Linked DNA regions of Homo sapiens. The protein of the gene in region 6 purifies or fractionates together with the protein of the main gene of each other region. This does not show direct contact. Each region holds a gene or a part of one and is shown on either strand. Other genes may lie near its edges. The genes, in order: DLD, DLAT, PPFIA2, ACAD11, ZMYM3, MED13L and AGAP1.

Region 1 (3,500 bases), on a different chromosome or scaffold from region 6:
GTTCAGAGGATATGTTATCACAGTGGGATATAATGTTTTATTTTGGACTGCCTTTTTACCCAAGGTAGACATTTTATAGTGTTTGATAGGTTCTGTTTCTGTGATACAATGATGTTGGCCTTTTGTCAACTATAATTATAAGTTATTACATTTTGAAACTTTAATACTGCCTTTTATAAGCATTAGGTTGAAATTTTCCAGTTGGTGAGTGAAAAACACTGCATATTGCTTCAAGAATTTAGCTAAGAACTAAAGATTAATTGAACAAATTACAGTGTCCGAAGTTCGCTTGAATTTAGACAAGATGATGGAGCAGAAGAGTACTGCAGTAAAAGCTTTAACAGGTGGAATTGCCCACTTATTCAAACAGAATAAGGTCAGTGTTTAATATTCAGATTTCTGCTTTACTTTGAATACAAATTAAACTTTGCATTATAGAGTGATGATATTTGAACTTGGTTACAGGGGAATATTTATTTAATTTAAAATAGCTTGCTAACCTGAAATAGATTTCCCTGACATATATCACAGATTTTTTTGCTGCACCATGGTGTAGCATTACTAAGTAAGGAAGCATTTTGTTTTAGATAAATTATTTACAGAGTAATTTTTCCTTTGAATGATTTATCAAACAAATTACTTTAAACTTTGTGAATTTATAAAGATTATTTTGTAAAGGTTGTTCATGTCAATGGATATGGAAAGATAACTGGCAAAAATCAAGTCACTGCTACGAAAGCTGATGGCGGCACTCAGGTTATTGATACAAAGAACATTCTTATAGCCACGGGTTCAGAAGTTACTCCTTTTCCTGGAATCACGGTATTTATGCTTCATAATTTACAACCATTACAACTTTTCTTTAGAAATACGTTTTATAAGTTATTTATGCTATTTGTGAACTTTGAGAGATTTCTGACTGAAATACTATATTTTGATGGTCATTCAGCTTTGGGAAGTTACCTGTCTTTATTCTGCAGTGATTCTGACCAGCTATAGAACACTTTATATTAAGATATGTTTGAATACAGTATGAAGTTAAAATTGACCATTGCGTTTGGAATATTGGTGGATAAAATTTAAAGTCAGTGTTTTTAATGGGATTTGATGAAATTAGGTATATAGATACCTCAAAACAAATAAATGACTTAGTATTTTTAGTGATTCTACTGAGATCACAGTTTATAAATACATTTATCTCTTCATATCCTTGGAGGATTGGTTCCAGGACCCCCCTTGGATACCAAAACCCACAGATGCTCAAGTGCCTTACATAAAATGACATAGTATTTGCATATAATCTGCATACTTCCTCCTGTATACTTTAAGTCATCTCTGGATTACTTATAATACCTAATACACTGTAAATGCTATGCAAGTAGTTCCTATGCTGTATTGTTTAGGGAATAATGACAAAAAAACCATGTGTACATGTTCAGTACAGATGCAACCATCAATTTTTTTCCTGAATATTTTCAATTAATGGTTGGTTAAATCTGCAAATTTGGAACCCATGGATATGGAGGGTCGACTGTACTAGGTTTTTTCAAATTATTTTGATTATATCTTTTGTTTTTCTTACAGATAGATGAAGATACAATAGTGTCATCTACAGGTGCTTTATCTTTAAAAAAAGTTCCAGAAAAGATGGTTGTTATTGGTGCAGGAGTAATAGGTGTAGAATTGGTAAGTGTTGTCTTTCTGCCTCTTATTACCTCCTTGGAGTTGGAAGGGACTTAAAGGTCCCCTTTTTGATTTTTTGTATAACATTACAGGCTGATCAGCATTGAGTTTTGCTTAAACACTTCTAGTAATAAAGAGTTTACTTTTGTTTTTTTCAAGACAACCTATTTATGTATTTACTCATTTAGAATGTTCTCCTTTATTTTAGTCTGTTTCCTTGTACCTTCCACCCTTCCATTTCCTAGAACTGGTCGAATTCTTTTTTAATATGACAGCCATTCAGATATTTGAGGACAGCTTTTATCCTGGGCAAATTGCATTCCAAATAAAGATTATTCTCTTTACCATCACATACATGATTTGGCTCTTCCCTTCTCTATCCTCATCTTGATGCCTCTTAACTTAGGTTTTAGAAATGTCAAACTACTTGCATTTCTTTGAACACCATGTTATTTTAGACCTTCTGTCTGCCTTGTTCTCCCTTCTTGTCCATCTGGCAGCTTTCCACACATTTCCAATGACCTCCCTCCATTTTAGAGTCACTGTGCCTTGTAAACACCAGGAATTGCTCTACTTCTGAAATAATAAATTCAGATATTTTATTATGTAACCATGACCTCCTTTCCTCTTTTACTCAGTTATTCATAGTGTACTTTGTACCCTTTTTTAGGTTTTCTAGTCCATAGATCTACTTTTTTGCAATCTTCCCTTTCCAATCTTGACTGCGTTCCTGATCAGCTTAGATGCCATAGTCCATCACTTTAACCACACTCTTACAGATGTCCTTGAGTTGCTTGTCTCACTGTTCTGTCATATCTGCTTGGCAAAACTCTAGTTCGGTTTGAATGCAGCAGTCTGCCTTTTTTATGCTATTTCCAGGCTGTTGACTACACCTGGAGAAAAACACACCCTACTCATTGGTACTTGTATTAATTCTTGGCACAAACCTTAACAAGAACCTCAGCCTTGCTGACAGTTTATTATTTCCTAAGATGGTACACTGCCCTGGTCTCTGCAATGGCCATTTTCATTTTCTACTCTTCTCAAATCTCTGCTTGTATACTGTCTGCTCTGCCTGTGGATGACCTTGTCTTTTAAATATTACATAAAAGAGAAATCAGATGAGAACTCCCTCAAGTTGATGTCCTAAATTTGATAATGCTTTTACCTGTTGTTACACCTATCCTTTTGATTACCTCTCCTATTACTGTGGAAATGCCATTTTCCCTAAGACTAATCCCTTTACTTGTGCTTGGTAGCACATCATCTGCCTTTTCAGAGACTTGGTTTTGTGATTTTTATTCTTGTATTTTTCAGTCTTCAAACTCCTTCCTTTTATTTACAATTTCATGTGCTTCTATGTGTGTACCTGTGATGCATTTGCACTCATTAACACAGGTTTGTGTGCACATAAATGCTCCTTATCTTGGTCCCATGTCCTTCTTGAGTTACCAATTTTGTTCGCACTTTTCCTTCAAAACCCAGCTTCTCAAAAGAGTTGTCCATGCTTTATTTCATCAACTTCCACTCACTCAGTCTATGGCTTGTGCCAATAAATTGCTCTTAGGGCATGAATCTATTTATTGCTCAATCTGTTGGACTAATTTCTTCACTGCTTTATTTGGCAGTAATTAGCATTGCTGATTTTCTTGCCTTTGAAACACTTTGCCTAACTTCTGTGATTTCATATTCTTCCATTTTTACATCTGCTCTTTGGGCTGAATTCTCCATATTATGCAAGTTCCCCTTTCTTAGGCTTCCCTTTAATTGTTAGTATTTTTGTTTTTCTTTTTTTTTTTTTTTGAGTCCGAGTCTTG
Region 2 (3,500 bases), on a different chromosome or scaffold from region 6:
ATGTTGTTGATGTCAGTGTTGCGGTCAGTACTCCTGCAGGACTCATCACACCTATTGTGTTTAATGCACATATAAAAGGAGTGGAAACCATTGCTAATGATGTTGTTTCTTTAGCAACCAAAGCAAGAGAGGGTAAACTACAGCCACATGAATTCCAGGTAGGGTATTAATTATTGCTTTCTAATTATGTTATTTTTAAGGTTTGCATAATGCATTTATTGCATTTTTCACCTTTTGATTCTGTCACGTAATTTTTTTTTTTTTTTTTTTTTTTGAGACGGAGTCTCTCTGTCACCCAGGCTGGAGTGCAGTGGCATGATCTCGGCTCACTGCAAGCTCCGCCTCCTGGGTTACGCCATTCTCCTGCCTCAGCCTCCCAAGTAGCTGGGACTACAGGCACCTGCCACCACGCCCGGCTAGTTTTTTGTATTTTTAGTAGAGACTGGTTTTCACCATGTTGGCCAGGATGGTCTTGATCTCCTGACCTTGTGATCCGCCTGCCTCAGCCTCCCAAAGTGCTGGGATTACAGGCATGAGCCACCACGCCCAGCGTAATTCTTTTTTGAAACAGAGTCTCACTCTTGTCACCCAGGTTGGAGTACAATGGTGCAATCTTGGCTCACTGCAACCTCCGCCTCCCAGGTTCAAGCAATTCTCCTACCTCTGCCTCCTGAGTAGCTGGTATTACAGGCATGCACCACTGCACCTGACTAATTTTGTGTGTGTGTGTATGTTTTTAGTAGTGTCGGGGTTTCACCATGTTGGCCAGGCTGGTTTCAAACTCCTGACCTCAAATGATCCACCCGCCTCACCCTCTCGAAGTGCTGGGATTACAGGTGTGAGCCACTGTGCCTGGCCTGCCACGTAACTCTTATTGACACACCGTTCTGAAAATAAAGTAAAATTCAATCATATATCCAAAAGAAGATATTGTTTGAAAATAAGACATTTTCCGGCTGACATTTTTGTTCATATTGTAATGGTTGTATATCTTCAGTAATGTGTATTCCATTCAGGCCTTTCTTAAGACCTTGCACCTTTTTAGCTTAAGGTCTTTTCACAGAACATTTGTCAAGTTTTCTGATTTATGTTGACAAACTATAATTTATTTTTAATTTTTTTTCCTCTAGGGTGGCACTTTTACGATCTCCAATTTAGGAATGTTTGGAATTAAGAATTTCTCTGCTATTATTAACCCACCTCAAGCATGTATTTTGGCAATTGGTGCTTCAGAGGATAAACTGGTCCCTGCAGATAATGAAAAAGGGTAAGTGCCAAAATGGAGGGGAAGTCGTAAGCTAATTTTTATTACACTGTACACTTGTCCTGTGGTATCCTCAGGGGATTGGCTCCAGGAACCCCCTCAAATATCGTGATCCACAATGCTCAAGTCCCTGATATGATATGATGTAATATTTGCATATAACCTACACACATTATTCTGTATACTTTATTCTTGACTTATAATAATACAATACCTAAACAGCACTTCATTCACATGGATCCAGTGTAGTGCCCGGTGTGCAGCAAATTCAAGTTGTGCTTACTGGAAATTTGTGGAATTGTTTACTTTCTGGATATTTTGATCCATGGTTGGTTGAATCTATGGATTCGGAACCCATGGATATATGGAGGGTCAACCATACCTGTTTTTGAGTATCAGTGTTTTTTTTGTTTGTTTGTTTGAGATGGAGTCTCACTCACCCTGTCACCCAGGCAGAAGTGCAGTGGTGCCATCTCGGCTCACTGCAATCCCCGCCTCCCAGGTTCAAATAATTCTCCTGCCTCAGCCTCCCAAGTAGCTATAGCTGGGATTACAGGCATGTACTACCACACTTGGCTAATTTTTGTATTTTTAGTAGACATGTTGTTTCACCATGTAGGCCAGGCTGGTCTTGATCCTGACCTCAAATGATCTGCTCACCTCAGCCTTCCAAAGTGCTGGGATTACAGGAATGAGCCAGTGTGCCTGGCCAGAGTCTCAGTTTTATATATAGTTATTGGCATGCTATATTGTATCTTCAAATAAAATTATATATATATAAAAAATACGAAATTCTTCAAGGCAGCAACTTTACTAAATGCAGTTAGTCCTATTTGAGGTGGAAAGCCTTATTTATTCTAGGTGAGGAGTCAGCATGCTTTTTTTTAGTTGTATAGTAAGTATTTTAGGCTTTCTGGGACATATGGCTGCTGTTGCAAATAATCTGCCATTGTAGTATGAAGGGAGGCATAAACAAGACAAATGAATTGCAGTAAATCTTTACCTAATAAAAACAGGCAGAGGACAGGATTTGGCCCATTGCCCACCCATACTCCAGGTATCTGGTCTGTTTCTTCAAGCTATAAATTTGAGCTAAAGGTATAGGAGACTGGAAGAGTAGATAGGAAGTATTACCTGGTTGGGATTATAGGGTAGGAGTGAGCATTTGGGTGGTTACTGGCTGAAATGCAGTATTTTCTTTCAGAATATCTAAAATGTCTTTATCTTTTTCTAGGTTTGATGTGGCTAGCATGATGTCTGTTACACTCAGTTGTGATCACCGGGTGGTGGATGGAGCAGTTGGAGCCCAGTGGCTTGCTGAGTTTAGAAAGTACCTTGAAAAACCTATCACTATGTTGTTGTAACTAACTCAAGAATTTCTAAACTCTCCCAGGTCACACTGATTCATTCTTAACAAGATATTTATATGTTATTAAACAGGTGGTTCTTTTTATTTTAACCAGTTATTTTTATTATTGAGTCTGTCCAGATAAGTTATTTATAATGGGCATTACTGAATTTTTAAAATGCCGATTACACCCAAATATTGTGCACATTTAATAATCAGACACCAGATTTTTAGCTCTGTACTCCTAATTAAGGGACATGTATGTGGCCTTGCCTAGCCCTTTGGTGATAAGTACTTCCTCTAGGAAATGTACGATAGGTAGAATTGTGGTTCCCTAAAGACAAGTACATAAAGGTGACCCTGATGAAACCTTGAAGTTCTGAAATTTAACTGCCTAAAATGTTCTCCTTAGATGTGAGAGAAAGAGAAATCAGAAAAATTAATTCTCTTGGGGGAAGGGCTTGAATTGAAGCTTTACTTTAGAATTTAGCCCTGGTTTGAAATTTTCCATTACATGATCTTGGTTTATCATCGATGGGAAGGGTAGAAAACTTCAAGGAAAATAAGTGAAATTTTAAAAGTCAGCATTTTCTTAGACCTCTTCAGCTGATTGTTTATTTTTCTATGAATTCCTACACATGGTTATTCCCCCCTACTTGAGATAATCTAAATATAAACCAGCTACTTGATGTAACTGAGAATTTGTGTGGATATTTATTTAAACAAATGTGTAATTTTGAGTACAGAATTCAACAGTTACCTCCAAAAAAGAAACATTGTTAATATAATTTAACAGAAGTTGTGAAACTAAAATTTTCTAAGATTAACTGGTAGTTCATTGTAAATGAACATAATGAACAGAATTTATGACTCCACTGTGGAAAATGC
Region 3 (3,500 bases), about 35 Mb from region 6:
GTGCAATTTGGAAGCAACAAACCATGTATCCTCGTGATCAATGTATGTGTTTTCCTAATTAGAGTACTCAAATATTATTTTAAATACATGTTAAACTGAAATGCTTTTCAAGCAGTTGGTTAAGTTTCAATTTATGGTCAATATATTTGACACCGTATTAATAGGATGGGATCAATAGACATTGTTATTAGTTTCTATAGTTGTTAATTTTATAACACCATGATAAATTACTTACTTTTACTTACTCATGTGAATTAATTTGAACTCACATTCCCTAACCTTCAAGCAATAGCTTTTTATATGTTGAAATATACTCTTTTTTGGAGAGTGAAAGAAGTAATATTTTGAAGCTGAAGTAACTGATTTTTCCACATTAACAACAAAAAATAGTTGGAAAAAAGAAATGACTGCCAACACAGAAAGCCCTACTTTTAAAAGCATTTATTGTAAAACATAATATCTAGAAGATAGATATTTTTATTGAAGCATTCATCCTTAAGTCATTATATTTGGTTATATTAATTATGTGTCTACAGATGCTGCAATTGATGAGACAATAAGAGAAGATATATTTCAGATATAAACTACATGCTTAGGTATATTCATATCATCAGTGATTATAGAGATCTGTTTGCAGTGCTTTATGCATATGGATAAGACAGTATAAAGAATTGTGATGACAAATGACATATTTCTCCATCTAGACTTATCTTTTTATTTAATATTTTAGCCAAGGATTTTTTTATTTTCTAATAACTTTCTGACTGAGGAGTTATTACTGCTGGCAGCAGCAGTACCCACAGGATGCACATACCTGTCTGCTAAAAGGCACAATCATATACTTTTCAGACTTTAATTACGCTTATACTGCAATCCAAATTTATGATCTTGTCCTACAGTCTCCTTAGTTTTTTGTTAATATTTCTAGTAAGTCCTTCCTCTAGCCTGATCTCATTGTAATAGAAAATATCCACTAAAAAATAGAAGAGTTATTCTTATCTATATTGACCAATAATAAGACCACAAAGATACAGTTAACTTTAAAAATACAAATTTGATATCAAAATTGAAATTTGGTTATTTCACAAGTGATACTGGGAAAGGGAAGCTGGAGAATTCTGGCTCAAATAATGTAAATTGTTAAGCAGTCTATTCGACAACAACGAAGGAAGAGGAATATTTTTGGAAGGAGGGCATTCAGTGTGCAGTGTGCCTGCAGAGTCTTACCTTCGAGCATCATTGTGGTAGGAAGAAGGGAGAGTGTGAGTCATTCTGAGGGCTCTAGGGGTAGGAGGAGGAGAAGTTTCACATTTAATTGTTGCTTTGTCCTCTCGACCATCTTCTTCCACAACTGCAATCTAGAAGCAAAAACAATACATTCAAATAAACCCTTTCTAAATTTCAGTTGAAATTGACACAAATGGAGAATCATGAGAACAAGGCTGTCGAGTAATTTTAATACAAAATAAAACAACAAAACTTGGGGCATTTAAGTCTTACATACATAAATTCCCATTAAAGAGTTTGATTTTCACAAATATTTAAATTGGACACATTAAAATTAAAAAAAAATCATAGACCCACTACACAAAAATGTTTGATTAATAAACACCATAGATCAAGCTTTTCCAACCCACAGCCTGCTGGAAACATATAGCCCAAGACGGCTTTGAATGCAGCCCAACACGAATTCGTAAACTGTCTTAAAACGATTTATGCACGGACCTTTTTTTTAAAGTTCATTAGCTATCATTAGTGTTAGAGTAGTTTATGTGTGGCCCAAGACAATTCTTCTTCTAATGTAGCCCAGGGAAGCCAAAAGATTAGACACTGCTGCCATAAATCAACTAGTTGCTGACTATTGATCTATAGTGTTTATTGACATTGATCTATGATATTTTATAACATCAGAATATAAACTCTTTACAAAAAGGTATTAAACACACATTTGAACAATTCACTAACATATAGCATTATACATACTCAGGCTATCATAATAAAGACATCTTTTAAGTAGGGATTTTTGAAATGAGAAGTTGATAAAATATAACTTTATCAGATAAAGTGTTTTAAATCAGTCAGCCTAATGAAATTTATTACAGGGTATTTAAAATATGAGTTGTGGTTTGTAAGAAAAAAATCTCTTTTTAAAGAGAATAATAAAAGGTAAGATAGTAATGTTTTCAAATTGTTCCATTTTACTACCATGATGGGAAAACTGGCAAAGACATACAGAAAACCAAAAGAAGATGAGATGGGAGGGATTTCCTTAAAGAACACTTTAGTACAGAATCCAGAATGACTCAGGATACTATCCATTTTGTCAGAGATGAAGATATAGAGCTGTAACTTAAAATTTTTTCCAATGTCAAGTTAATTGTAGAGACATAGTTTTTACAACAATGCTGCATATTTTTCATGGCATCGTTGTGTATCACAATATGGAGAGATCAGGATTGTAGAAAACACAGCTAAAGACTTATGGCTTTAGAGTTCTGATGAAAAAAGTTCTTAGTATGGCTAAACAAAAATTTTTAAAGTTCTAGGGAAATATTTTGTTTGTTTTTATGTAAAGCTGTTATTTATAAATGTGTTTATCTATAATAAAGACCTTGTAACTTTGAGGAACTTCATGAAATTGTCAGGACTTTTGTCACCCAATCTTAGGTTCCTTTTAACAGCTTAGGTAGGTAGGCATTTTTATATAATTCCTTTGCTCTATTCAACTAGCATATTGCCATCAGGAGAATCTTTTTTCAATAACTGCTTTCGGATTGATTCTGATGCTGTGGAAAACCTTTTTAAACCCACAACCCAGCTAAACTCTTAAGCGTGTTTCTGAACTATTCCTAATACATGTTAGTGTTTTCACAGTTCTGTGATCCCACCATGACTCTTCTCTGATTGTTTCTGCTAAGCATGGCCATTTTTGCTGTCAGAATTTTGCTTCTGAAACATCTTATAAAATACCCTCTTTGTCCTCCCTGCCAGCCAAACTATACTTATTCCCAATAACAGCTTCTAAAAACAGCATGGCACATGTATACATATGTAACTAACCGGCACATTGTGCACATGTACCCTAAAACTTAAAGTATAATAATAATAATAATAATAATAATAATAATAAATCATGTACAAAACTTTCCTCTGAATATCACTTAGAGTTTTGGAATTAGAGAGGGATTTGAATTCTGATTTTTCTTAAATGTTGAATAAATAGGCTGATTACTTACCTGCTCTAATATTACATTTCCTCATCAATAAAATGGAAGTGATACAACACTTTTCTTAATGTAGTCTTTTGAAGTGTAAATACCATCATTTATTTAACTCGTTCCCCGATACACAAGATTTTTTTGGTTGTGGTCCCTCTTTCCATGACTTTTCTCACAAATTATGTTGTTACTTCCTGAATTATTTGAGACTACATTTTCGTATAGAACCTTCCATCCTACCTTTCTATTTCTTACAGCCATTAAACTTATATAGTCTTTTTA
Region 4 (3,500 bases), on a different chromosome or scaffold from region 6:
CTTTCTCTATGACTTTATAAGAGCTTTTATTGTGGTTATATTATACTATAAATTTATAATATTATAAGTATTATAAATTACTATACTAGCTAGATTTGTGAAACTACTGAAGAGGATGGATGCATTTTTCTCTTACATCATTCTATTTGTTATCTATGCTTTTAACATCCAAAGTAAAGATGAGGCACTTACTTATGCTATAAATGATTACTTTTCTTTTTTAATACAATTGGGAAACTTCTCTGGAGTTACTTTTCAGAATATCTGAACCATTTTTGGGGTAAAAACACAAAGCTATAAAACAACAGCCAGTGAGAAAAGCTGATGGCTCATCAAATTGCATAAATTAGTGCAAATTAATTAGCAATAGCTAATTAGAGTCCTGTTGATGCCTGTTTGTGTTGAGAGTTATTAAAAGCTCAACATAACTTTTAGTGGTTGATCTGGACATTTACTAGTTCGTCTTACTGCTGCTAGGGAACTTATTAGTAAAATTATTTTTGATAGTTTTTCTGAAACCTCAGCTCAACAGAAAGCTTTTAGTTTTTTAAATTATCTTCTTTATAAAGAGATTCATTTTATGTATACTTTTTACACCATTGAATTTTATTAATATGTATGTGTATTGGCATTCGAAACAAACAAAAAATACATACAATCCAACAGAACAAACAGTAGATGAAGAAGGCAGGGAAGAAAATAATAGAATTTGTAATGAAAAGATGAAGCTAGGAGTAAGGTTATTACACATAATTGAATGTGATAGGACATGCATAGTTGTTAGTGTGGGTAGTAAAATTTGCTTTGAATTTTATAGCGGGTAAAATAAAGTGTGAAGCATGGTCAGTCACAATCTTTATAGTGTATGCAGGTCAAAAACAAACCAGCTGCTCAAGAGGGACAAATTTTCTTGGCAATGAGGCTAAAGAAAAATATCACCCATCAATCTGCATACAGGTGATATTGTGTAGCGGACGAAAATGTCTTCAACAATATAAAGAGAACTTTGAGGGGCATGGTGTAATTCCTAGAAAGCAGGCTATGCTGGAAAATGACTGAAAGGACAAAGATGAGTTAGGTAGAAGACAAGACCACATGCTGAGAGTGGGAACCGAGATGGGACAAGAAATGTGAGAGTTTGAGAAGAAGGGAAAAGATTTAGAAAAGCCATTTTTTAAATGTCACAGGTTTTACTAAGAGATGAAGTTACAGCCTAGATAAAATCATGTGGCATAAAAATGTCCCAGATCCAATTAACCTTACTTCACGACTTTATTCTGCAGCAAAAATATGAGGATTCAAGTTTAGGGCTAGAAACTGGTTAAAGTCAAGGGGTGATGGACATCCCCTGTAGGGTTATTAGAAAAAATAAAAAGTAAAATAATAATAATAATGATGATATAAAGTCAGGGTGGGAAGATTCTAGAATAATAAGTAACCTAAGGTCAGGACACTTTATAATTCTTACATTACTTGCATACATCTATAGTCAAAAAATTATTAATGAAATTGATACTAAAGGTAGTTTTTGAGATGACTGATTATGACCATGTGGCTTATGTAGGATAAGAAGTCAAGTGAAGTCATGAAGGGCTTATGGATTCTAAATTAACAGCAATCAAATTTGCAGTGTCTCAGGGAAGATGCAGAGAAATAAAAGAACAGAAGGTAAAGAGGGTGAGGTCAAAAATAAGGGGTTTCAATTTCTAGATCACTGAAGTTGACAAGTTCCAATGGATGTTTCTAATTAAATATATTTTTCAAGTTGAAATGACAATATGCAGATTTTACATTAAACTCCAAGATCTTAAACATTTCTCTACTGGTAAAATTTATATTTGGAAAATCAACATTTTCCAGGAAAACTGGATTTCTTTTCAACATTGCAGTGAGCCTATTGTGCTACTGAAATACTTGCCCAAACATGCTTTAAATACTTTGTAAATAAGTAACAGAAAATAATTTCGTTTTGCCATATCCTGTAGTTTCCTTTACTGGCTTACTCCACACATTCCTGGAAGGTTTGTCATTTAAAATTGTTTATTCTTCTTTCTTAATTGTTGTGTTTTCTGATGACAAAAATTAAACATGCTGTTGTTTTAAAAATAAAAACCAAAAAACATCAAACCCTAAACATTACAGAAATGTACAATTATGTCTCCTATAATTCTATCCCCTACAACCACTGTTTAGGTTTTCGTACATATTATGAAGCATTTACTTATACCCTAATATTTTTCTGAAGAAGCTTGACAAGTAGTCTAAGAAAAGTCAGAGAGAAAAATGAAGGGGAAAAAATGGAAAAATGAGGGTACCTGAAATAAACTGAGCATCATTGATGTGCCAGGTACCAGCTAGTTGCTCCACATTGACTGTTTCATTTTAGCTGCCCAGCAACTCAGAATTTTTTTTTTCAATTTTAAAAGGTACACAATGTCAATTTCCTGGCTTTGATAATGTACCATAGTTGTATAATATCCATTTTGCAGAATTTGGATGATGGATACACAGGACTTCTCTGTACTATAACACTGTTACAACTTTTTTGGGGACTCTAATTATTTCAAAACAAAAAGTTAAAATAAAAATAGAGGCACAGAGAGAGATTGAATAACATGCTTTAAGTTCACACTGCTAGGGAATGAAAGTTAAGCATAAATTTATGAGATGGAAATAGTTGCTAGTGAATAATTAACTAAAATTAATCCCTTCAACATAGATTCATCAGAATCATATAAGCACCTGCAATATAAAGATGAATAAGATACAGTCATTGTTTTAAAGGAACTCCAAGTCTAGTGGGTTCTAATTTGTTATCTACTATAGAGACTCAATATTATGTAGACTCGACTAAAATATTAATTAAATGACACAGATCAAATACAGGCCAGATCCTGCTATGTTTTCAGGCATATGCTTTTATAATTATCTAGATTATAAATTAGCATATTTAATTTTTCTAATCTCAGGGTAGATAATTAACAAGGTTAGAATTCAGAATTCATCAGTGCCACTAGCTCTTCCTGCCCTAAAACATCTTAGCATTCTAAGAAACTAATGAACCCAGAAAATCCTCCTCTCAGAAGCAGGATTCATTCCTACTATACTGTAATCCTAGGCCTCATTGTAGGTGCTCAGTGGAGGATTACAGCTTTCATTTGTTTATACTCTTTATAAAGAATACAGTATGCACATTTACATTGAGCAAGGTTATATTAATCTCATGTAATTCTTTTGAAGCCTCAAGAAGCTTTTGGAATTCTCTATTCTCAGAGTTTATAATAAACAAATAATAAATTCTTCATGAGATAGGGCTAAAAACCCCAAAGAAGTATAAATGAACCAGAAAAAACAGCAAGAACATGGATAAGCTAAATATTGTAACTAGTAGATGAAAACTTATTTGAAGAAAACAGCATCATGCATGTAAAATTCCCAAATCCTTTTAAGCAGTAAACCAGATACCACTTGGGATTAGAACCAGTCTCAAAGGTAGGCAG
Region 5 (2,508 bases), on a different chromosome or scaffold from region 6:
ATAAAACAGACCCTACTGCAAGGGTGGGCTTGCCTTCTGGGATAGAGAAACAGCAATGACCCCAACCCCTTGTGCATTAGTCCAGGTAGAAGCATGGGTCCAGAGAAAGGACCTTGGAAACTTCACTCAGACAGGACAGAAGTCCAGGGACAGAAAAAATGGAAACCAAGGTGCAGTTGTTGTTAGACCCGATAGCAAAGAATCACAGAAAGCCTGTCATTCTACCCTCCCCGACAGCCAAACACACCCAATGGTTTCCTACCTGTCCACCACCCAGAAAAAGCAGGCAAGCAAGTAAACTGTCTTAAATGAGGAAAGAGGGGAAACAGGCCAGAGGGTGACCTCTTATTTATGCAACAGCTACTGCCTATCAGGTAGGAGGACTGGCTGTTTCTACCCTTTCTGCACACAGGAACAGGAGAGGGAAGCTAGGCGCCAAGGAGAGGGCCGACCTGGCAGGTATGGTGGGTTATGGCAGGGCATGGAAGGGGAAGGCAGAGAAGGGGCAAAAGCACAGGGGAGGGGGCAGCCTCGTACCTCGCCCTTTCCTCTGGCGGACTGGGGCATAGTAGCGGATGCTCACCACCTTGGTGGTGCCCCGAGGGGTGGTACACTTGCGGGACTGCCGCACCACATTGGTGAAGGAGAGTTGCATGTGTTCCTCAGCTGTCTGCAGCCCAAAAAACTTAGTGTTGAAGAACATGAGGGTGTTGAGGAGGACAAAGGGCGAGTAGACCCCCAGTTGCTTACACTCCCAGAGGTGCTCCTCCTCCACTCGAGAGAACACCGTATCTACAATGGTCAAGGGGGAGAGGCCAGTCAGGAGGGAGTGGCTACCCAAACCCAACCACTTCCCATCCCATGTGCCCTGCTCATTTCCCACACAATTCTCATTTGGTGAGTAACCTTTGTATATAAAACACTGTCACTTCGCTACACTTGCTACACTACACAGTGGGACTGGGCTTTAAAAAATATATACTTTCCACACCTGCATTTGGAACGCCTCTCACCACCCTCAAGTTGTAGACAAGTAAATGTAAACCTTGAGGAGTCCCACGATTTCTTGCTTTCTTTCTTTACTTACCACCCAAACCCAGGCCATCTTTTTCTGGTCCTAGAGATAGCTCTTCAGACCTAAGTCTTGATCCCCATCTCACGTTCAAGAACAGGCGCTCCTGTGCTCCTTTAACTCTAAACCCTGAGGCATCCAGCTACACGCTCCTGCCCTCGGGCCCTTTGTGAAGAGTGGCAGACCAAACAGCACAGGACTCTCGGGATGGTGGATTGGAAGAATGGAGAAAGCGGGTAGGGGTTGCTACGTCCCTGTTCCTTACTGTTGGGGAGGAGTGTGGGCTGCCAGGTACTCAGAGACTTGTTGAGTTCTTGAACAAAAGTCAGGTAGTAAAGGTCCGTGAAAATGTTCACCATCCGGTTATTTTCCAGCAAGTACTGGGGAAAGAAAAACAGACACACCTAAGGCTAGACTGTAGGTCCTAGAAGAAAGATAATGATGCTGAAGCCCCCAGGTATGGTGTCCTTGATCATTAGGAGACGATGGGAAACAGTTGCTTGATTAGGTGGCCTCGAGTGCTTTCCCCCAGGTATACCCACAGCTCTGCGCTACTCAGGCTTTGCTCGAAGAGGAGGAGGCTTGGAGGAGATGTTCTTTAGAAGCCCACACCTCCTTCTCAGGTAATACATGGTTGACTTCTCCCAGGGGGAACTAAACATTACCCCAGCACTCAAGGATCCCAGCTCCACCCATCCCTCCCCTCCTAGAATGGGCTTAAAGATTACAAAGGGGACCTGGATAGCAATGAAGACTGCTCCTTGGCCAACGGTCCTGGAATGCAGTTTTGATTTTAGAAGAGTATTGATATCTCATGTTCTATTTGGAGTAGGAGATTAAAGGCAAGCTGCCTGCTTCAGGTAGGGGACAAGATGAGGAACAGGGAGTGCAACAGAATAACTGCTTTTTTTTTTCATTAAAAAAATATTTTTTGGGTAGATGGGTATCACTTTGTTGCCCAGGCTGGTCTCAAACTCCTGGCTTGAAGCGATCCTCCTGCCTCAGCCTCCCAAAGTGTTGGGATTACAGGCGTGAGCCACCGTGCCTAACCCAGAATCATTTCTGTTTAGACCCTGCCTGCTGTGTTAAGAGTGACAGGAAGTGAGGTGGTGCACAAGAGGTACCTGCTGGATGCCAAGACACAAATAGTAGATACTGTCAGGTTCATATCGTTCACCATTGGGCCGAGTGATTTCTCTCACAAACTGGGCCAGACCGTAGTTGAGCTCAGCAGCTGAGCAGGCGAGAATATCCTCTTTGATACGCATGGGTTTGGCTGCAGTGATATGTTGTGCAGGGACAGGATTAAGAAAAACTCTACATGGAGAATTTCACTTAGCTCCATCACCATTAACCCCTCCATCCCTTAGTCATGCCTAGCTCCTGAACAATTACAGAAAGAGCCCCTAACCTGGAACCTAGACAGCATTTCCCTT
Region 6 (3,500 bases):
CAAACTTGCGCATAAAGTTTGAGTCTGGAATGATTGTCATTCTCCTCGCCGCTCCAAGGCTGGTTAAACCACTCACTCACAAGCTCATCTGTCAGCTTCTGTGCCACAGTTTTTCCCACGCGCATGATCCCGTCACGTAGCACTTTGCAGATGGGCTTGTGCTGCCCAAGCCTACACATCTGATATCATAGACAAGATCATTAGTTATAACAGGAGCCATTCCTTCATTCAGTACCAATGGTTAGCAAGGGAGATTCTTTAACATACATATGGAAGCATTTTCCTTTTTCTTTTAGGGTTATCACATGCAATCAAACCAACATTACAAGTTGGTCCTTTCAGGTAATTGTAATGTACCCTTAAATTGCTATCTGTCTCTCTAAAACTTGGACTAGGCTCTCTAAAAAAAAAAATGTTTCTTCACTCAAGCCAATTCCTCCTGTACAAGAGGAGGCTGCTGAACACTACCTGATTGCTAACGGACAAAGAATTAGCAGATTCCTGCCTACTGTTGCTAACTGAGACATATGCCCACTAAAATCTCCTAAGTAATCCCTACTCATAATATTTTCCCATAAGATAACATTAAAATTTTATGGGCCATCTGTTCTGTTACAGACATTTGGAGATCACCAATAGCAGGGGCCACTGAAGCAGTGAGTATGCTGATCGCCTTTTTTTTTTTTAAAGTAAATAGGACAAGGAGATTCTGCTATTAATCTCCATGACGCTAAATGGGTGCTTATGGCAGGGAATATAATAAACCTGCAAAAAGTAAACTACCTGTTCACCAGCAGGAGAGCCCGTATTATTATCCCTTACTAGAGTAGATGAAGTGAAGGCTTACTAAGCCCCGACAAAATCCTCTAGTGTATACTCTTCCTAAGGAGGTATCAATTACTGCCGAATAAGCAACCCTAGTGAAGTCATTAAGAAAAATTTAAAAGAGTGTCTGTCTGTACCCTCTTAAAAAGATCTGGCAGTGCTTTTTACATTTTGTAACTTATGTTGAAGGTTCCATTCAAGGAAATGGCTGGGCTTTAAAACTGCTTACACAAATTTTCTGTTAATTATGATTTAATAGTATTATATATGCCCTGACCAGACACTGTTCAGAAATGAATGTATCCAAGGCAGTGACTTAATTGATGTCATTACATCATGTTAGCATCTCCTCATTTCTTTGTAGCAACAACGTAAATTTACTATTCCGTGCCTACTCATACATTTATAGATCATGAATGTCCTGTTTTGGAATATTTTGCAATTCAGCTTGGAATCTTATTTAAAAACCACTTTCATAATGTTTACATGCCTATCATAGTACTAAATATTTTACAGATATTAATTTCATTTTGCTGAATACAAAGACATTAGATGTATCAGATACAAAGAACTTAGTGCATATATACTTTGGCATAAGAAATGTGGCACTTATTCTTCAAAGACAGACATGATTCTATTTTTTTTAAAGCAACAGGAATTCATATACTAAAGATGTAAAATTATCTGCCTGGTTTTTACATTATTATAGGAATTATATTTTTAATCAGTATCAAAGTTTCAGTATTAAGATGTCATGTTAAAACACAACAGGGACATTATTCATTAAACTTATGTTTCAATTCAGAAATTTGCAAAAGACACATTTTTACACTGTTGTCAGGAACTCTCACCTACTCACCCTGTCCCTCAATCCATCCAGTAAATAAATACAAAGAGTAGATGTGCTCTTTTGGTAAAGCTCATCTTCTACATAGCCACACTTTCCCCTGGTGAGCAATATTCTTCAACTTTTAGCACATAAATGGAGAAGAGAGAACTGATGGGATTTTAAGACGTGTGGTAAGAATGGGAGGGGAACGTTTTCTAAATCTAACAAATATAAAGCAAAGATGGGAAAGCAATTTGCTTCCAGAAAAATTGGCCAATTCAATTCTCTTCTTCATCCACCTGTTTGCAAATTTTCTCTGAGATTTACTTTCAAGACATTTGTCTTGAAATTTAGTCATCACTATAAACAATCAGAGGATCCAAGTCATAAAAAGCAATTTTCACAGTAACTTCCTCACCTCGTATACAGCACTCAAGTCCCTGAAGAAAGTTTTGGCTCCTTCGAGCAAGGCCTCATTTTCTGGACACACCACAATATAGGCAACATCACGGTGGCCCCCATATGGGTCCAACAAGAGCCTCTCCCAAAACGGCAAGGAGAATGGCGAGATGGTGAGGAAATCCTTGTCATAGCCTACCAGCAGAGTGGGGATGGGCAACGGCTCAGGAGATTCTTCCGAACCTAAAATGACATTGTAGTGTAGAAAGGTGCTAGAGAGTTTTTCCCACAACCTTACAATTTTGAAATTCCTGGTGCACTGGTCTTAATTCTGGCATCTGAAATGTCACTCCATGTTCACAAGACATTCTTAAAAGTATTTTTGAAATCATCTAATTAAATGGTCACTGATGAGGACTCTTAATTAAGTAAGTCAGAATTTGTTTATAAAGGTTCAGTAAGATCAGAGGGCAGACTAGAACAAGTTAAAATTAACTTTCCAAGCAGCACTACATCATTTCCTTCAAGATAAGCATTATGATTCTGACTATGATGAAGTAGACAGAACTGGCCCAGAAGTCCATCCAGATGAAAATGCAGTGAGGATTGGGAAAATGAGGAGAATCTAAAAAATGCACTTTTTAGGGATTAGCTTCCTCACTGACCTGGATTATGCCAAGGGTGGTAGGAAACTTGACTCCAAAAGTAACTTTAGGAAAACAAAGAGATTATAAAACTAAATGGTCAAAGAAAAAGACTCCCCTATTTTGTTAGTGACGCAAGGACTTGACAGTAACTAACGCTGCTCTTCACTGAACAGCACTGAAGTCAGAAGGAATTTTAAACAGGACAAAGACCCTACCGTAGGTTCCCCGTCCTGCCATTTTATGGAACTGCTGCCAAGTGAGTGGTCCCTGCACATGCTGGATGTTCTCCCAGGTCCTGCCCGTGCGCTTCTTTTGGATGGCATCTTGGAGAAAGGGCTGCAGGGACAACAGCATACGAACCACATCCTGGGAGGAGAGCATGCTGATGTCCAGCACTGGAAGAGAAGTGAGAAGAAACAGAGAAGATAAGGGGGCTAGCACCCTCCTCTTCCTCACCATCACCTCGAGCCTCAGTTATATTCAGAACAATGACGTTATTAGCTGTAGTAGATTCTAAAATATTTGACTTAGGAGTCAGGAGGAAAGATATTCTTCTACTAAATTAGAGAAAATAATTGATAATTTAGTATCAACAATAATAAAAGGGGAAATGGATTACTCTATATAAAAAAGTTTAATGGAAGAATTGTTTAAAAGTGGAAAAATGGATAGGTGCGACTTTTTAAAACCATGGAAATCTGTTTCCAAGGATTTTCATAAGACAGCTGCAAAAGTTTCTTAATTATTACTTTTATTTGCAAATATCAATGTTTTGTTTATATGATAAGTAGGAAAAAATG
Region 7 (2,626 bases), on a different chromosome or scaffold from region 6:
TTCTCATTTTTTTTTTTTGGAGGGGAAGATATAATGTAGTTTGTAGGCAAAAATTACAGTAATATTAATGATAATAACGGTCTTAATAATAGAGTCCTGGGATGGTTCTACTGCTAGCCACCTGCTGGGAATAGTTCTTACGACACACCTGGGGCAGTGTGGCACAGTGCAAAGATACAGAAGCATCTGGAAGTTCTGGGCCCAGTCAACCCTGGCTGGGCAAAGAACATTCTCTTGGAGTTTCTGTCCTTGTAAAGGAAGAAGTCAGAAGAGACACTCCTGGTCTCTTTCTTCATTCCGTCTGTGAACTCGTGTGCTGAGTCCCTCGGGCCTGGGGCAGCCTGGGCCTGGGGCAATCCCTGCCCGCAGCAGACAGAGCCCCTTTTCTCTCTGATTTACCTTTCCTGGGCTTAGAAACACAATTAGTTGTGACAAATGACCAACGCCACCAAAAAAAAAAAAAACAAAAAACAAAAAACAACAACTCCACGGAAGCGGTGTAGACATATTTTCATTTCTTTATTAGAAAGAGGTCTCTACACCATAGCCACCTCTCTCTGTTACTTTACACATCTTTCTTTTTCTTTTTCCCTTAGAATACTGTACAGCGGACACAAAAAAATCCCAAGGCAGGAAAATACAAACTGGCATATTTAATCAAAACAAGATCATATGAAATAACAAGCAAAGTGAAATGTCTGTCAATGGTTTTAATTACAGTACAAACAATATAAATAAAGCATCATTGAGTCATTGTGAAACATAAAGTTGCTGAATGAGGTAATAGAAAACATCCAAAAAAAAAACCTAAACCCATCTGTGGATACACCCACGCTGCCCTTCCATCTCTATACACTGCTATTTACAGAAACAGAAAACTGGCTGCAAGGTGGGTTGGCCTTCCCTGCCCCTGCCTAGAAATGCATCTCAGTTGTCACCTTTGAGCTGCTCCGGCTGCCCTTTAGGAAACGCACCCCTGTGGCAAGATGAGAACCAAATTCCAAGCTGGCAGAAGGGAAGAGCCAGTGCAGGAGACCTGCCCCCGGGACCCGTGCGACCCTCCCCTCTCCAGGCTGAGCTCAATAAGGGCCTCCCCAGCGCTCAGGTGCTCGGGGCTGAGAGGGGCTGCAGTCTGGAGAATTAGATGTATTTCAGACACAAAAACCCAGCCGTGGGAGGGAAACTGATGCTTTTCAAGTCTGCAAGAAGGAATTATTTCTAACGTTACAGTGCTGGTCCCTCTCCCCCCGTTCTTAACGCCACGAAGCAGCTTCTAAATGCACACTTTGCCACCCACCATGCAACTGCCCCACCCCTCTCCAGCCACCTGTGTACCCTCAAAACAGCCATGCTGAGAGCCCTGCTGGGACCCTTGGGGCTGGGTTGGGATGGGGGAGGTCCCTCGTGCCAACCTGAGCAGTGCGTGAGACCCACTCCCCAGACCAGCCCCTGGCTCACTCCCAACACCCTTGGAGCCTTCTCTGTTCTCCTACCCTGAGAACCCAGGCAGGAAATGCATTTGCCCAGGGACCTCCAGGAATGTCAGGGGACACCCCAGGGCTGTGGTATTGGGCAGGGGGCTGGGCTGCTTCCAGTGTCTGCATGAGGCCCATTAGGATTCCATGCACCTGGACTGTCCTTCCTCAAGTCCAAAGGCCCCTGACATCCTCATGCCCAGCTGCTGACCGAGTGGGCTTCCAGTGTCTTCTGTTTACCAAAGCTCTCCAAGCGGCTCAGACGTTAGCTTCCTGGGCCAGTGTAGACTGTTCAGCACCAGGGAGATGAGGGTTTAATTGGATTTAGGGGCAGCTGTTCCCAACAGCTGGTGTGTTAAGGGGGTTTGCTCCACTGGGAAGATTCCCCAACACACTCATGCCTTGTTTGGTTCCTTTCTTTCACCTGCATCTCAAGGCAAAGGCCATGCAATCCCCCCACGGGGCATTCTAGATCAGTCCGATGTGGACTTCGACAAGGAGTCTCTATCATATGGTTTCACCATCCTCAGGTTGGGGGAGTGCTCCCTACAGGTACCCTGTGCCAGGCCAAAATGAAAACCAAGCCCTGAGCCAGCCTCTCCTCACATTCATGAGGATATCCTGTTTGGGGCACATGGAGCGGCTGCCCAGCTTGGGCGTCCCAAGGTCGGATGCCACAGCTGCCTGCTGGTCTCACCTAGCAGCCTTAGGCCTGAGCTCTGGGGCTTTCAGAGCCCATGCAAGTCTCTGCTGGCCACTCTGGCCCCATCTGCCCACCTCCAGGCCCTGAGGCCCATCTGTAGAGGGTGAGGACCTCAGACAAGAACAGTTCTACCCAACAGGTGCAAAACCCCAAACCAAGTGCTGTCATTTTACACCAAAACCAGCATCTCATGGTGAAAGACAGTAAGAATGGGTTTTCAGATTTAGGTTTGCTTACCGCTGCTCTGGGGTGGGTGTTTACTACACTGGTGAACTTAAATACTTTCTCATACAACTCAAAGATTTAAAAAAGACTTGTTGGTTTCCCAGAATCCCTTTCCAGAATCACCTGCCAATGCGGACATGTGACGCGAAGAAAGCCGCAGACACACTGATTAAATGGGGGGGCCATTAATATTTCAACAGTCTATTTAAGGGCAGTATTTCTT

The links.
Region 1: the proteins of MED13L (region 6) and DLD purify together in Homo sapiens (affinity purification with mass spectrometry; one large-scale study listed by BioGRID and IntAct). This does not show direct contact.
Region 2: the proteins of MED13L (region 6) and DLAT purify together in Homo sapiens (affinity purification with mass spectrometry; one large-scale study listed by BioGRID and IntAct). This does not show direct contact.
Region 3: the proteins of MED13L (region 6) and PPFIA2 purify together in Homo sapiens (affinity purification with mass spectrometry; one large-scale study listed by BioGRID and IntAct). This does not show direct contact.
Region 4: the proteins of MED13L (region 6) and ACAD11 purify together in Homo sapiens (affinity purification with mass spectrometry, with the first as the bait; 2 studies listed by BioGRID). This does not show direct contact.
Region 5: the proteins of MED13L (region 6) and ZMYM3 purify together in Homo sapiens (affinity purification with mass spectrometry; one large-scale study listed by BioGRID and IntAct). This does not show direct contact.
Region 7: the proteins of MED13L (region 6) and AGAP1 purify together in Homo sapiens (affinity purification with mass spectrometry; one large-scale study listed by BioGRID and IntAct). This does not show direct contact.

Annotation. Positions count from the first base shown.
Region 1 is NC_000007.14:107,904,683-107,908,182, forward strand, and holds part of DLD (dihydrolipoyl dehydrogenase, mitochondrial isoform 1 precursor), read left to right. Parts: intron 1-275; coding exon 276-376; intron 377-678; coding exon 679-822; intron 823-1,584; coding exon 1,585-1,686; intron 1,687-3,500. UniProt on the Homo sapiens protein: Lipoamide dehydrogenase is a component of the glycine cleavage system as well as an E3 component of three alpha-ketoacid dehydrogenase complexes (pyruvate-, alpha-ketoglutarate-, and branched-chain amino acid-dehydrogenase complex).
Region 2 is NC_000011.10:112,059,908-112,063,407, forward strand, and holds part of DLAT (dihydrolipoyllysine-residue acetyltransferase component of pyruvate dehydrogenase complex, mitochondrial isoform 2 precursor), read left to right. Parts: coding exon 1-158; intron 159-812; exon of another isoform or gene 813-830; coding exon of another isoform or gene 831-887; intron 888-1,130; coding exon 1,131-1,267; intron 1,268-2,498; coding exon 2,499-2,628; 3' UTR 2,629-3,500.
Region 3 is NC_000012.12:81,339,851-81,343,350, forward strand, and holds part of PPFIA2 (liprin-alpha-2), read right to left. Parts: intron 1,359-3,500; coding exon 1,228-1,358; intron 1-1,227. UniProt on the Homo sapiens protein: Alters PTPRF cellular localization and induces PTPRF clustering. May regulate the disassembly of focal adhesions.
Region 4 is NC_000003.12:132,635,810-132,639,309, forward strand, and holds part of ACAD11 (acyl-CoA dehydrogenase family member 11), read right to left. Parts: intron 1-3,500. UniProt on the Homo sapiens protein: Acyl-CoA dehydrogenase, that exhibits maximal activity towards saturated C22-CoA.
Region 5 is NC_000023.11:71,241,633-71,244,140, forward strand, and holds part of ZMYM3 (zinc finger MYM-type protein 3), read right to left. Parts: intron 2,349-2,508; coding exon 2,197-2,348; intron 1,453-2,196; coding exon 1,338-1,452; intron 793-1,337; coding exon 538-792; intron 1-537. UniProt on the Homo sapiens protein: Plays a role in the regulation of cell morphology and cytoskeletal organization.
Region 6 is NC_000012.12:115,984,194-115,987,693, forward strand, and holds part of MED13L (mediator of RNA polymerase II transcription subunit 13-like), read right to left. Parts: intron 3,096-3,500; coding exon 2,916-3,095; intron 2,297-2,915; coding exon 2,073-2,296; intron 180-2,072; coding exon 1-179. UniProt on the Homo sapiens protein: Component of the Mediator complex, a coactivator involved in the regulated transcription of nearly all RNA polymerase II-dependent genes.
Region 7 is NC_000002.12:236,129,668-236,132,293, reverse strand, and holds the end of AGAP1 (arf-GAP with GTPase, ANK repeat and PH domain-containing protein 1), read right to left. Parts: 3' UTR 501-2,626; downstream 1-500. UniProt on the Homo sapiens protein: GTPase-activating protein for ARF1 and, to a lesser extent, ARF5. Directly and specifically regulates the adapter protein 3 (AP-3)-dependent trafficking of proteins in the endosomal-lysosomal system.